Linked DNA regions of Homo sapiens: regions 2 and 3 are each reported to be linked to region 1. The links are microRNA targets in miRTarBase. Many come from high-throughput screens and were not tested one by one. Region 1 holds a microRNA gene; each other region holds the end of a gene's coding sequence.

Region 1 (4,243 bases):
GTCTGGTAGACCTTTCTCAACAAATAGATTGAGCATTCTTCTTTACAGCTATACAGTATCCCCTGGTGTGGAGGACTATAATTTATCCAACCATCTCCCATTGATAGACATTGAGGTTATTTACAATCTTCTGCCATTACAAACAATGCTGCATTGAATAATATAGAGAGTTTAAACAACAGGGGGAAATGTAAAAGATAGCGCAGGCATTTCATTATGGGTTTCCCAGTAATTTTTTTTTCCCTGCTGCTGTTTCTTCCTGCTGCATTTTTATTTACCTGAAAGCCCACTGTTGATGCTTTATTGCATTTTGCACCTTGTTCAGGGTCATTTTAGCCATTGGAACTATACAATAAAATAGAAAAATGTACATTTGTGGAAGTCTTGAAAGTTAACAATAACAACTACAAATCTCACACTCATTCAGGGTCTTCTGCAGCCTTGAGCGCTCAGATAGCAGGCTGATGGGGACTGTGCAAGCTCAACACACAGTAACCATCAGATGCAGACACCTCCCTCCTGTCACGGTAGACTAAGAAGCACAGGGTGCACTGGTCAGGCCACTCTTTCCAGAGCTACTGACACCATGAAAGGTACACAGAGATTTTTTTTCACAGTGATCTATAACTCTCAAAAACCCACTGGTGTTTATACCCAAAAGAATTGAAAGCAGAGACTCCATGAGATATTTGTACAACCATTTCTCTTTCTTTCTCCCCTCCTCACCCCTCCCCTCCTTAATAGAGTAAAAACATAAACATTGGCAGCCCCTTGGTTGACATCAGTCTTTCTGTATAAGCAGCCATATGCAGAGCCTTCTCTGATTGAATCATTTTTCTCCATAATCCATTTCTCCACAATCAGAGAAGAGAGTTGTACAGAAAAGATCTCATCATGAGGATGATATTAGTGAAAGTACAAGTTCATCAGGCCCCTACTGAGCCAGGCACTAAGCTAAGCTCCTTACTTTTTCTCATCGAATCCTTATTAAAGCTCTGCAAGGTCAACATTATCTGCATTTTACAGATGAGAAAACTAATGCTCAACAACACCAAGAAAAACAGCTGAAAACTATTAGCACTAATGAGAGAAAGGAGTGGGGCAGATGGACACGCTACCAATGGGAAGTCACCAATACTTTCCTAGGTACGAACAATAACCAACTTGAAATTGTTTTTTAAAAGTCCCACTCAAACAACAACCAAAACCACAAAATATTGGGAAAAGGGCTACAAAAAATCTAGTAGAGAAATGTAAATAGGAGAGGGATTAGGACAAGAGAGAGAGAAGAAATTCACCTTTTACCTGGTGTATCTCTGCATAGTTTGAATTTTTACAATTATTTTTGTAAGAACAAAATCTTAATATAAATGTGAGGTTAAGAAAATTGTCCAGAGTCAATATCTGAAAGCGAATTGGTCTAAATTCAAAGGCTATTCCTGGCCGGGCGTGGTGGTTCACGCCTATAATCCCCGCACTTTGGGAGGTTGAGGCAGGCGGATCACTTGAGATCAGGAGTTTGAGACCAGCTTGGCCAATATGGCGAAACCCCATCTCTACTAAAAATACAAAAAATTAGCCGGGTGCGGCGGCGCACGGCTGTGGTCCCAGCTACCCTGGAGGCTGAGGCGTGAGAATCGCTTGAACCTAGGAGGCAGAGGTTGCAGTGAGCCGAGATCGCACCACCACACTCCAACCTGGGCAACAGAGCAAGACTCTGTCTCTAAATAAACAAACAAACAAAGGCCATTCCTTTATGTTCTGCCATCCTAGAATCCACCCAAGAAGACTGCTGGCTGGTGCCACGTGTCATCCTGAGAGGATGCACACGTTAGAAGGACATTTTTGGATTACAAAGCCAGAAGGAAAAGACTTGGTTGGATGTCTCCTTCCATAAAGAGACATTGTGGGCGTTTTCTGTTTGCTTTTGCATTTTGTTTTTGTTTCGCTTTGTTTGTTTGTTTTAGGACAGAGTCTCGCTCTGTTGTCCAGGCTGGAGTGCAGTGGCGCGATCTCGGCTCACTGCAAGCTCCGCCTCCCGGGTTCAAGCGATTATCCTGCCTCAGCCTCCCGAGTAGCTGGGACTACAGGCGCCGGCCACCATGCCCGGCTAATTTTTTGTATTTTTAGTAGAGACGGGGTTTCACCGTGTTAGCCAGGATGGTCTCATCTCCTGACCTCGTGATCCGCCCGCCTCGGCCAAAGTGCTGGGATTACAGGCGTGAGCCACCGCACCCGGCCGTGTGTGTGTTTGTTTTCTAAGGATCATCATCAAAATAAAAACACAAAATCCACATTCCCGTGGGGGCTTAGTGACCCACCCGCATGCAGCGTTCAGTCTCGTGTGAACAGAATCGCTATAGACGACTCCCTGATTTAGGAACTTTTCGAGCCAGGGTAACCGTGTGTACCTGGGGCAAGGGTGATGGGATTGTGCTTTAAGTGAATGGCGCCCCTTGGACCACAGCTCAATGCAGAGCTACTGCTCTGGGCTCAGTTTCCCGCCTGGTTTCCCCTGAGCCTTTTTCTGTGTCGAGCCCCCAAGTACTGGCCCTTTGACTTGGATTCAGTTTTCCCCCTGCCTAGGATCCTTCAGTGACACTGTCCACCTTCACCCTGCTCGTGACTTCTGCGTCCCCTGGGCACTGAGCCTTGGAGCTCTGGACTTCCCCAGTGACAGACCAGGCTCCAGGAACTCAGACCAGGGGCAGCACTTCAGGCCTCCACGTTCTTGAGGGCTCCAGGCAGTTTCCTGAGGGTGCTTCAGAAAAAAAAAAACCATCACTTGCCTCCAGAGGCTCACATTCCCTTGGGAGACTCCCTCTCACTTTAGCCCTAGTATCCTTCCAAATCCTGGGCACTTTACAAGGCCCCATGGCAATGCATGCGTGGCCCGGAACTCCCAGTCAATTGGCACTTGTGCTCTCTCTCTCACTCATTCTCTCCCTCCCTCCTTCCTTCATGCTATGCTGTTCCCCACACCAAGATTTCTAGCCCACTAGGCATGCACGTCTCTTGTATCAATTCATTTTCTTTTTTTTTTTTTTGAGACGGAGTCCTGCTCTGTCACCCAGGCTGGAGTGCAGTGGCGTGATCTCGGCTCACTGCAACCTCCGCCTCCTGGGTTCAAGAGATTCTCCTGCCTCAGTCTCCCAAGCAACTGGGACTACAGGCACGCGCCACCACATCTGGCTAATTTTTTTTTTTTTTTTTTTTTTTTTTTTGTATTTTTAGTATAGACAGTGTTTCACGATGTGGCCAGGCTGTTCTCAATCTCCTGATCTCAGGTGATCCGCCCGTCTCGGCCTCCCAAAGTGCTAGGATTATAGGCGTGAGCTATTGTGCCCAGCCCATTTTTCATATAGCAAATTCCTCCATGCAGTGGAGTTTCTCTAACAATATAATAACATGCATTTGTAAAGCACTCTTGCATACCTTCATTTGGCCCTTTCATGTGATCTGTCCAAATAAGCCATCTACACAATAACTTGGATAATAATACCTAGCATTCTTGAGCACTGACTGTGTTCCAGATAATGAGCTAATAAGCACCTTATTACCCTCAAACCGCCTTCGGAGGTTATTATTATCCACGTTTCATAAATGAGGACACATGCTCAAGGGCTGGTAAGTAACTCTTCCAACGTCACACAGCTAGTAGGTAATGCAGCCTGGATTCAAAGCCAGGTTTATAGACCTTGGAGTTCTTTCTGTTACACTGTAGCTCAGGTAAACATGTGACTATATTTACAAATGCCAATACATGGTGAAGGGGGAAACAGAAAAGCTATAAAAATCAATAGTGAATTCAGAAGCACATACATCTGGACAAATGATCTTCCCCTCCTCCCTGGAAATGAGGAAGTCCCTGTATTACAATGATCAATGCCATTTACTCAGCATCTCCTCGGTGCCAGTCCTAAGGGCTTCATGTGTAATTTTTCTTACTAGATGTGTGATGGTAATCAAGTCTCCTGACTTCCCTTACTCCCAATTTTGTCCTGTAGAATAAGATGACAATGTCTGCTCCTGTGGCTGTTATGAGAGGTGATGGAGATGAAGCATGAATAGCACTCGGGACTGGGAGGAGCAGCAATCATGACTGTCCTGAGGACTGTGATCAGGGTCAGAAAACATTCTATATGGACCTTCCTGGGAGGGAGGCAGCCTTCCCAGAAGCACCCCACCCCCACTAGCCAGCTGTCTCCCCAACAGCACCAGCCAGGACTGAGTATGTGGCCAT
Region 2 (4,243 bases), not on the chromosome of region 1:
TGTTTTGCTCACCTCCGACTCACCTCCTATATTCTCTTGCTGGAATGTAGCTATAAAAATTGATTTTTTTTCTTTTTCTTTTTTTTTTTTTTTTTTAGGGAGTACCATATTTTTGGGATTCAGTGGAAACTTTAAACCATCATGGACTAAGCTATTTACCAGTCCTGCTGGACAGGGCCTTGGGGTGCTTGAACAATTCATACCTTTGCAGCTGGACGAATATGGTTGTCCCAGAGCCACCACTGTCCGCAGAAGAGACCTGGAACTGCTAAAGCAAGCTTCAAAAGCACATTAGAGACTAACTGTAACTTAAGTGCTGGGGGAAAAAAAATGTGAACTAACTTATTTAATTTATGGCATTTTAAAATGACACTGTTAACCCAACGGAACCATTTTCCAGTTTGATACAGAATGGGGAGAAAAGAAAGCGTTTGAAATTATTGCTTGGATACCAGCTTCATGCACCTTCTAGTTGTACAAAATGTTAAAGACGTTGTTTGTATTTGTAAGGCTGGTGTATTCAGAGAGCAGATCTCTTATTCCTCACTTTCCACCCCCGTATTTTGTAATGACCATGAGCAATGTTTTTACTTTTTGTATAATGGGGTGGGGTGGAGTGGGGGCTTCTGAGAGTCAGCCTGAGGTCTTTAGAGGACCAGCTATTGTAGCACCTTGGATACTTGAAGTTTAATGCTCAGTTGGGTCGGGTGGCAGTTGACTTGGTGGCTGGCATGTTCAGCAGTGCCTGGGGCCCTGTTTCTGGGCAGCCTTTGAGGATTTTCTATGATATTGAATGACAGTTTTAAGTGGCAACTCAGGCCCAGCTCATGCCCTTTTTTGCCTGGACATGTGCTATTTTTATTCACTTATATATCAATTACTTGTAAGGGTTAAACTTTCAAACAGGAAGTATATTGGGACAAAAGGGCTCTTGGGGATTAGATATCCCTTTAATCTGTGACCATTGGGCAAAAAATTTTCCTGCAGCAAAAGTCTGAGGCTGTTGGGACCATTTTTGCAGCTTTAATCCTTAGCCTCTTTTGACTGTATATTTGTGTTTAAAATGCAGAGCTCAACTGAATATTTCCTTTTTTGTTTTGTTTTGTTTTGTTTTAAGAAGTAGGTTGTTTTCCTGAACCGTAAACTTGTATCATTTTAACTTGCACAAAGGAAGTCTGTTCTTGGTATTGCTCTTGCACTTGGGTTTTTTGTTATTGTTTTGTGTGGATTTTTTAAAGCTTTTCTGTTCACCCTCCTGCCAGGAAAATCCCAGAAAGCTTAATGATACCCCAAAATGATTACACCCAGGGAGGAAAAAAAGGAGCGCTTTCTAGGGTCAGAATCGTGGAGAGAATACTCAGAAATGAACCTCTTTAAAGCCTTGCAGGAATGAGTCACTCTTACTTAATGAAATGTTAAAGCCAATTAAAAAGCATGCTGTGATGCCCAGCTTCCCTTTCCACAGGGTGCATGCGTCTCCTGCTGGTGAATCACATGCGGCAAGAGGCAACTGGCTCCACAGCCTGGGATGCTGCCGTACCAAGAGGAAAGAAGCAGCAAAATGCCTTTACGTTGTTCTAAACCCCCGACGCATAAAGTGTAGAGGAGGGATGGCCAAGGGTGGGTGGTAGAAAGTGTGTTCAGGCTGACACTGGCAATGAGTACAGATAATTTCACTTTCCTCTTCTAGGGGCAAAGGCTGATGGCCTCTACCTTTGTATCCAGGAGAAACTGCAGAGCAGCCCTGTGACTTTACAAAATATGCTACCTCAAAGTGCTACCGATAAACCTTTCTAATTGTAAGTGCCCTTACTAAGGGCACATGTCTTAATCAAAGTTAGTTTTTTGTTTTCTGGTTTGTTTTTTTTTTTTGTATATTGATGAATGAGATCTTACCTATTAAATATATTATTGGATTATGGTTCCTGAAGGTCATTAGAGTGTGTGTGTGTGTGTGTGTGTGTGTGTGTGTTTTATGACTTAAATATCTTTACGTGTGTTTTTTAGAGCTTGGTTCTTTAAAGATTTGGAGAAGATATGTAAATTACCAAGGCACTTGGTTTTTCTGTTTTATATACTAATAATCAGGGCCTAAGTTAAATAAAAATATGTGTGCATGTATTTTATATATGTGTGTATGTGAATTTATTTATTATTTATTTTATTATTATTGTTATTATTTTTGAGATGGAGTCTCGCTCTGTCACCCAGGCTGGAGTGAGGTGATGCAGTCTCAGCTCGCTGCAACCTCCACCTCCCAGGTTCAAGTGATTCTCCTGCCTCAGCCTCCCAAGTAGCTGGGATTACAGGCACCCGCCACCATGCACTGCTAATTTTTGTATTTTTAGTAGAAGTGGGGTTTCACCGTGTTGGCCAGGCTGGTCTTGAACTCCTGACCTCAAGTGATACTCCTGCTTTGGCCTCCCAAAGTGCTAGCATTACAGGCATGAGCCACCGCGCCTGGCCTGTATGTGAATTTATATCTCTATCTATAAATTTAAAATTCCAGATTCCAGCTGTAAAGAAGTTACTGACGGAAGTGAGGAAGACACTTGGTGGACAGAATCCACCAAGTAAATATTGTAAGAGTAAGCTTCAGAAGGGCAGGGACTGTATTCTCCAAGGCAGAGGTTCTCCATCTTGGCTGCACACTGGAATTACCTGAGGAGCTTTAAAAAAAAATATAGAGGCCTGGACTTTACTCCCTTCCCCCCAGATTCAGATTTAATTGGTGTTGGGTGCAGCCTGAGCACTGGAATTTTTTTTAAAGCTCCCTGGATGATTCTAATATGCAGCCAGGTTTCGGAACCACGGCACTAATATAATAGGCCCACTGTTTAACTCCAGTCTGTAATTTTTTTGTGACTAAAACAAAATTGCATTTACCTATTATTTTTATTTGCATTTCCTATATTACTCACAAAACTCCCAGCCCTAAACAAAGCATTTCTCTATTGTCTCTTTTTAATAGAAGCTTTTAATACAGTTTTTAGTCCTCAGTCCTCTCAAATCATTAAATTGGTTCTATACACTGATATATACATTTCAGGGAATTGGGAGCTAGCAATCTGTTCTATTTCTACCAAGAAAATATATTCAAAGGTGATTTATAAGTTCATAAGCATTTTCCATCAGGTGAGGCAGTTGGTTGAGCTCCAAAAATGTGGTCGTCCACAAATCAGCCAGCTGACGAGCAACACAGAGGGCTCTCATGTATCCACAGACTAGGGTTTAAGTCTTTGCTGTGATTCCTGCCTCTCCACCTGAGTCAGCATGCCATATATTATCTTCAGAGGCTGGAAGAGAGTGCTGGCAAGAAGATGAAAGGCAGACGCACCATCTCATGGACTATGACTGCAAAGCAGCCTCTAAGCTGATGTTTAGACTCGGGGATGGGAAGAGAGGATTTATGACTCCTCTGTTCTCTAACTTCATCAAGAGACAACACATCCTCATGCCATTAAAGTGGGTTACTTTGTCTTGAGGAGGGGAAGGTAATGAAGTGACAGATCGAGGCTTGAGTGCTTTAGATAACTACAGTAGGTTTTCATTCCTTAAGAGATGAGGTCATGTTTGGATGTGTCTGGTTGAGAAGCATTTCAGTAAGAAGGAATGAGCTTAGTTAGTTCAAGTGTTTTTTTCTGTTGTTCCTAGTAGATAAACACAATACATAGATTCAATGATGACAATGTTTGTTAATTTCATCATGCAGAGTTGGAGCTTACTTCTGGAATTCTTATTTGGTTTCCAGATACTTATTAAACAATGTTTAATAACCTGAGAAATTCCCCTGGAGGTAAAGACCTTTAATAGGGCAGCAGATTTGTATCATTACTGTTAGTTATGATTACATTATTACTGTTATAACCCAGTGTGCTGGAAATGTGAGCAGACACTATTTAAGCTAGTTTTCAACAAAAGGTCATGGAGGGAAAAAAAATAAAGGAACTCCATTCCTGGTTCCTTGCTCACAAATGGCAAAATGCTGTTCACAGACTTGCTAGACCATTTGAGTCATTTGGAAGAGAAAAGGTTTTTTTGTTTTTCCCTTATTTATCTTCAATTTGAGAAAAAAACTAATAAAAGGATGCTTCAGTAGGCCCTGGTGTTGTGGATAAGGGCACGCACACTTTTTATTTTTATGTGGTAAATTTAGAGAATGACTGACTGAACTGTGATTTCTAAATGAGGAACTGTGCCCCACAGGACATCCAAAATTATCAGCCATAGCAAGCTGTGAACA
Region 3 (4,243 bases), not on the chromosome of region 1:
CTTTGGGAACTTAAGGAAATAAGAACGTCACCTGTTAATCATCTTAGATGTGGTGAAGTGTGAGAATGAGAATTTATAGCATCTACCTGGGAGCAGGTTTCAGGGGGGAATGCATGGATGGAGAGATTTAGGGGAGAGACTTCAGGAAATGAGAAGCCTCTATTGGAGGGTAGATGCCAAAGAGGATGGAAGGAGCAAAATTGGAAACAGAATTGCCTCTGTAACCAGTTTATTTAGTGCAGCTTTACTCTTTCGCCATAACTGTCCCCATGAACTCTCCTTCTTTGTCCTTGATTCAAAGAGCCATTGTCTCTACCTCCTGATGTGCATCCTCCTTCCCATCAGGCTCCCTCTAGTCTTATTCTCCCCACACCAGCCAGTAGTCATTTTCATATGTAAGTCTATTTAATTATTATTAAATAGACTATTAGTGTAAGTCCATTGCCCTTTGGGTAAAGTGCAAATTACGTAACCGATGAGGGGATTGACATTGTTAAGACTGGCATAGGTATAATAGAGATGATTCTTAATATTATTAACATCCTTAGCAAAACAACCCATTGTACTATCTTCTGTTTTCAGGTGGTGTCATTTGTGAAGAAGAATGTTCTAGTAACTGGGGGATTTTTCGGAGGCTTTCTGCTTGGCATGGCATCCTAAGGAAGATGACCTCATGTTCATTGTTCCTGGTTTTTTCCAGCCAGCAGCCTCTACACTCCATCATAGGACATCGAGTCCCTCCTCCTCTTCTCCCATGCCTTCTTCCCTGCCATGGCAAATCTGAGTGGCTTCTCTAAGCATCTGCTGGTACAAGTCAATGTGGCACCATGAGCTTCATGGTGGCAGAAGAGACAATAGTCCTTAGCTCTCCTCCCAGTACACCCCCTACTTGGCCAGTCTGTAGGCCAACAAGAAGGTTCCTTTACCCCCATGCAAGACACTTATGAGAACACATTACAAGATGGCTGACCGTGGAGGATGAGTGGATCCTGAAAGGTTGTCCCAAACTGTTGATTTGGAAAAGAAATAAGCACATAGATAACCTTATTGTGTGCTGCATGGAAAGGAACTGAATACATTTGCCTTTAAGCATGAAAGATTTTGGTATCTTGGTGTCTACTTTCTTTTTTAGTTGGTTTTACATTACAGAAAGCTATTTAAATGTGTTATAATTATGCCGACAAAATTGGCAGCATAATTACTGTAATTGAAAAATCTGATATTGTCCAGGAATGCTTTCTACCGTACAGGATAATGTATCTCATGGCTGTTTCCAAAGGGTTTATTTATTGTAAAACAAGTGATTTAGGTGGGAAAGGGAAGATTTTGGATTTTTATTTTGTAGAAAAGGTTTTAAGCTTTGAAATGTGAATGAAATATCCTTATCAAAACATTAGGGGTGGCCATAACTCCTCTGTGCCACTTCTACTATTTTTTTTTTTAATCTAGTTAGTATGAAATACAACATTTAAACCGGAATTTTAAAGAAGTAGCTTTCCAGGGATTCAGAATTAAGAAAGATAGTGATAGGACATGAGAAATAAATTTCCATCAAGTGTAATCTACCGTCTCATGATGACCACAACCCTGAGAATTATTCTTTAAAAGCTTACACACACACACACACACGGGCACACACGCACACACAGAATCTTACCACATTTTGCTGTAGTGGCATGTTACCATGTCTACAGTCCCTACTAGAATATCAGTCAGCTTTCAGAGGGCAAGACTTCTGTCTTCACCATTATACTCACAGGGCCTAGCACTTAATAGGTGCTGAGTATTTGAATAATGACTTTATAGAAAGAAAACTCACTATTAAAGGTTAGTTTTACTCAGAATTGTTAATCTTGGAGATGATCTCTTGTGAAATATGAGTGTGTTTCTAAGGCCATACATTTAAAAATGTTTGCATTTTAACCCGTCTTGAGAATGATGTATTGAATTTGAAAATCAAAACTACCAGTGGATGTGTGGAACTTTACAGAAACCACCTATTTGCGTTTTTCTCCTTACATTTAAGGAAACATAAGCCATTTTGCTTGCAATATGTATGAATCATCTCAAAACCATAATGGTATGAGCCTCTTTGCTGCATATTTTGCTATAAGAACTTATTTTTTTTCACTTTTTATTATGGACGCTTTCAGGAATATATAAAAGTAGAGAATATAGTACAATAATCCCCCTGTGTATCTATCACTCACTCACAACAATCATCAAATTATAGCTCTGCTGGTTTTTACCAGTTATTGTGAAACAAATATCAAAATGTCATTTTATCATATTTCAGTATGTATCTCTAAAAGGTAAGAATTATTTCTAAAAATCATAAATACCTCATCATATCAGACATTAACAGTAATTACATAATATCCAAAATCTGATCAGTGTTCAAAATTTCCTCAAGTGTTTTATATTTAGTTTGTTTGAATCAAAATTCATGCAAGGTTCACATCGTATTTGCATGATTTGGATAAGTCTCTTAACCTTATAGATCCTCCTCTATTTTTTTTTTTTTGCTTGCTATATATTTATATCTCTATATATATTGATATAGACATATGTAGTGACACTGAGTCATCTGTTTCCTGCTTCCCCACACTCTGCCTCTCCTGACATCTGGGTCTCTGGGTTATGCCATATATGGTGATAGTGGCTGCAGCCACTTTACCTGTGTGACTTACCCACAGCAATGGGATGGTAACAGCAAAGCTAACCAAAGTGCTCTGTGCCCCTTTGGGTTGCATGTGGGGAGACTGGCCACCCAATGCCTCTCCAGTGGGGTAGGGGTTGTCTTTTGGTGCATCTGTTTTTCCTGTGATTATTGGTGAGGGCAGCAAAGATTAGCAGGTGGTTGTAAACTACCTTGAGTAGGTTGTAATAAATAGTCTGGCCTCAGACTGTATTCTGATTGTCTGAATTAAGATCTGTAGGTAGGTCCCTCCTGAAGTTTTTTCCCAGCTGGCTGCCTCTACGACTGTGAGGGTCATGGTTGAGGTCAGTATTGCAGGTTGGCCTCATCCTGCTAGTATGAGAACGGCTGTGAGTTCTGCCCACGGTGTGAGGCCACTGTGACCACTTGGGATTGTGCAGAGCTGGCATGGAGGTTGAACACGCACAGCTGCACACCTTGTTTTCAGTTTAGCTGAACCATCGGTGAAGGAGGCTCAGGCATTTGGGGTTACCTGTGAATCAAGGCCCTATTGTGCCAGCAGTTTTGTTTCAGGTGGTGAAGTGGGAGTTAAGGTTTCCCCCAAAAGAACAGCTGCCACTCCTCCATGCAAAACCGAGATGATTCAAGGACCAGGCAGCTCCACCTTTCAGTGCACTACTTTCATTTGACTGGAGAGGCCTGCTTAGCTAGGCACGTATTTTCTCCAGTAGCAGAGTCCAATGACGCTCTGGACTTCCTAATTAGTGGTGGTGGGGCGGAAGTTTTTCCTTGGGAAGAGCGTTGTCGCTGTATATGGTCCGCAGAAACTTGACTTGGAATGTGTTCGGGGTTTCATCGCCCCCTTGTGGCGGCGACGTGGTAACACCGCACTCAAGGCTTCCAACTTGTCAACCAATAGGATGGCATCTACGTAGTGAAGGCTTCCCTTCCCTTGTCCTGCAGCGTGCTGGACAGTGTCCCGGCTCAGGGACCCCTTCTGTCCCCTTCCTGGCTACTATGGGTCGGCCCTGCGTCCTCACCACTTTGAGCCACCCTTTGACCCAGCGTCTCTCCCGCAATGGGACCTGGTGGGATGGGGACTTGGAGCATGCTACAGGAGAGGTAGAACTTTTGAGTCTCTTCTTCCCAAGGTTCTCCCCAGAGTCGGAGAGCAGAGACGGATCCAGGGGCACTTTCTGGCCGCTGCCTGCTCGGGCTCAACAGATGGAGTCCAATGTTTCAGTCTCCCCCAAGAATGTGTATCCTCATTGCTGACACGGGAGCTGGGTGCGGGGAGAGATGTGGTGGTGGGGACCCTTGCCTGAGCAGCCCATTGTCATGAGTGTTATTGCCATTGTGATAATATGTTAGCATGACTCTCCTCCCAAATGGCCGCTTGTTTGTTGCAATCTCCCGCCACTCAGCCTCCAGACATTCATTAACAGGACAGTGGGGTTCTTGACTCCCCTACCACTGGGGTGACAGTCCTTGCTACTGGATCTGGGCAGTTACTGTCTCATGGATGCTGGCAGAAGACGATTCAAGTTGGCGGACTAGATTCTACAAGGAATGATCTCTTGCATA

What was found. Region 1 holds the annotated microRNA hsa-miR-4682 (UCUGAGUUCCUGGAGCCUGGUCU, at 2,679-2,701, opposite strand). A microRNA usually pairs through its seed, bases 2 to 8, with sites in the 3' UTR of a target mRNA and lowers its output. Matches are read on the target gene's strand: a 7mer-m8 pairs with bases 2 to 8, a 7mer-A1 pairs with bases 2 to 7 and ends in A, and an 8mer does both.
Region 2: the mRNA of CEMIP2 is a reported target of hsa-miR-4682. Seed matches in the 3' UTR shown: 7mer-m8 at 812-818 and 7mer-A1 at 1,356-1,362.
Region 3: miRTarBase lists FUNDC2 as a target of hsa-miR-4682. Seed matches in the 3' UTR shown: 7mer-A1 at 1,837-1,843.

What each region holds. Positions count from the first base shown.
Region 1 is chr10:119,956,980-119,961,222 of GRCh38, reverse strand. MIR4682 (microRNA 4682) reads right to left here and starts at 2,710; the gene lies at 2,631-2,710.
Region 2 is chr9:71,681,249-71,685,491 of GRCh38, reverse strand. It overlaps CEMIP2 (cell migration inducing hyaluronidase 2), which reads left to right. Exons shown (of 24, transcript NM_013390.3): 24 at 99-2,126. The coding sequence ends at 295. Among named protein-coding and RNA genes, the nearest start is that of CEMIP2, 85 kb to the left of the region's middle.
Region 3 is chrX:155,054,013-155,058,255 of GRCh38, forward strand. FUNDC2 (FUN14 domain containing 2) reads left to right here. Exons shown (of 5, transcript NM_023934.4): 5 at 583-4,243. The coding sequence ends at 660. Among named protein-coding and RNA genes, the nearest start is that of CMC4, 15 kb to the right of the region's middle. RefSeq lists enhancers at 3,256-3,757, 3,422-3,716.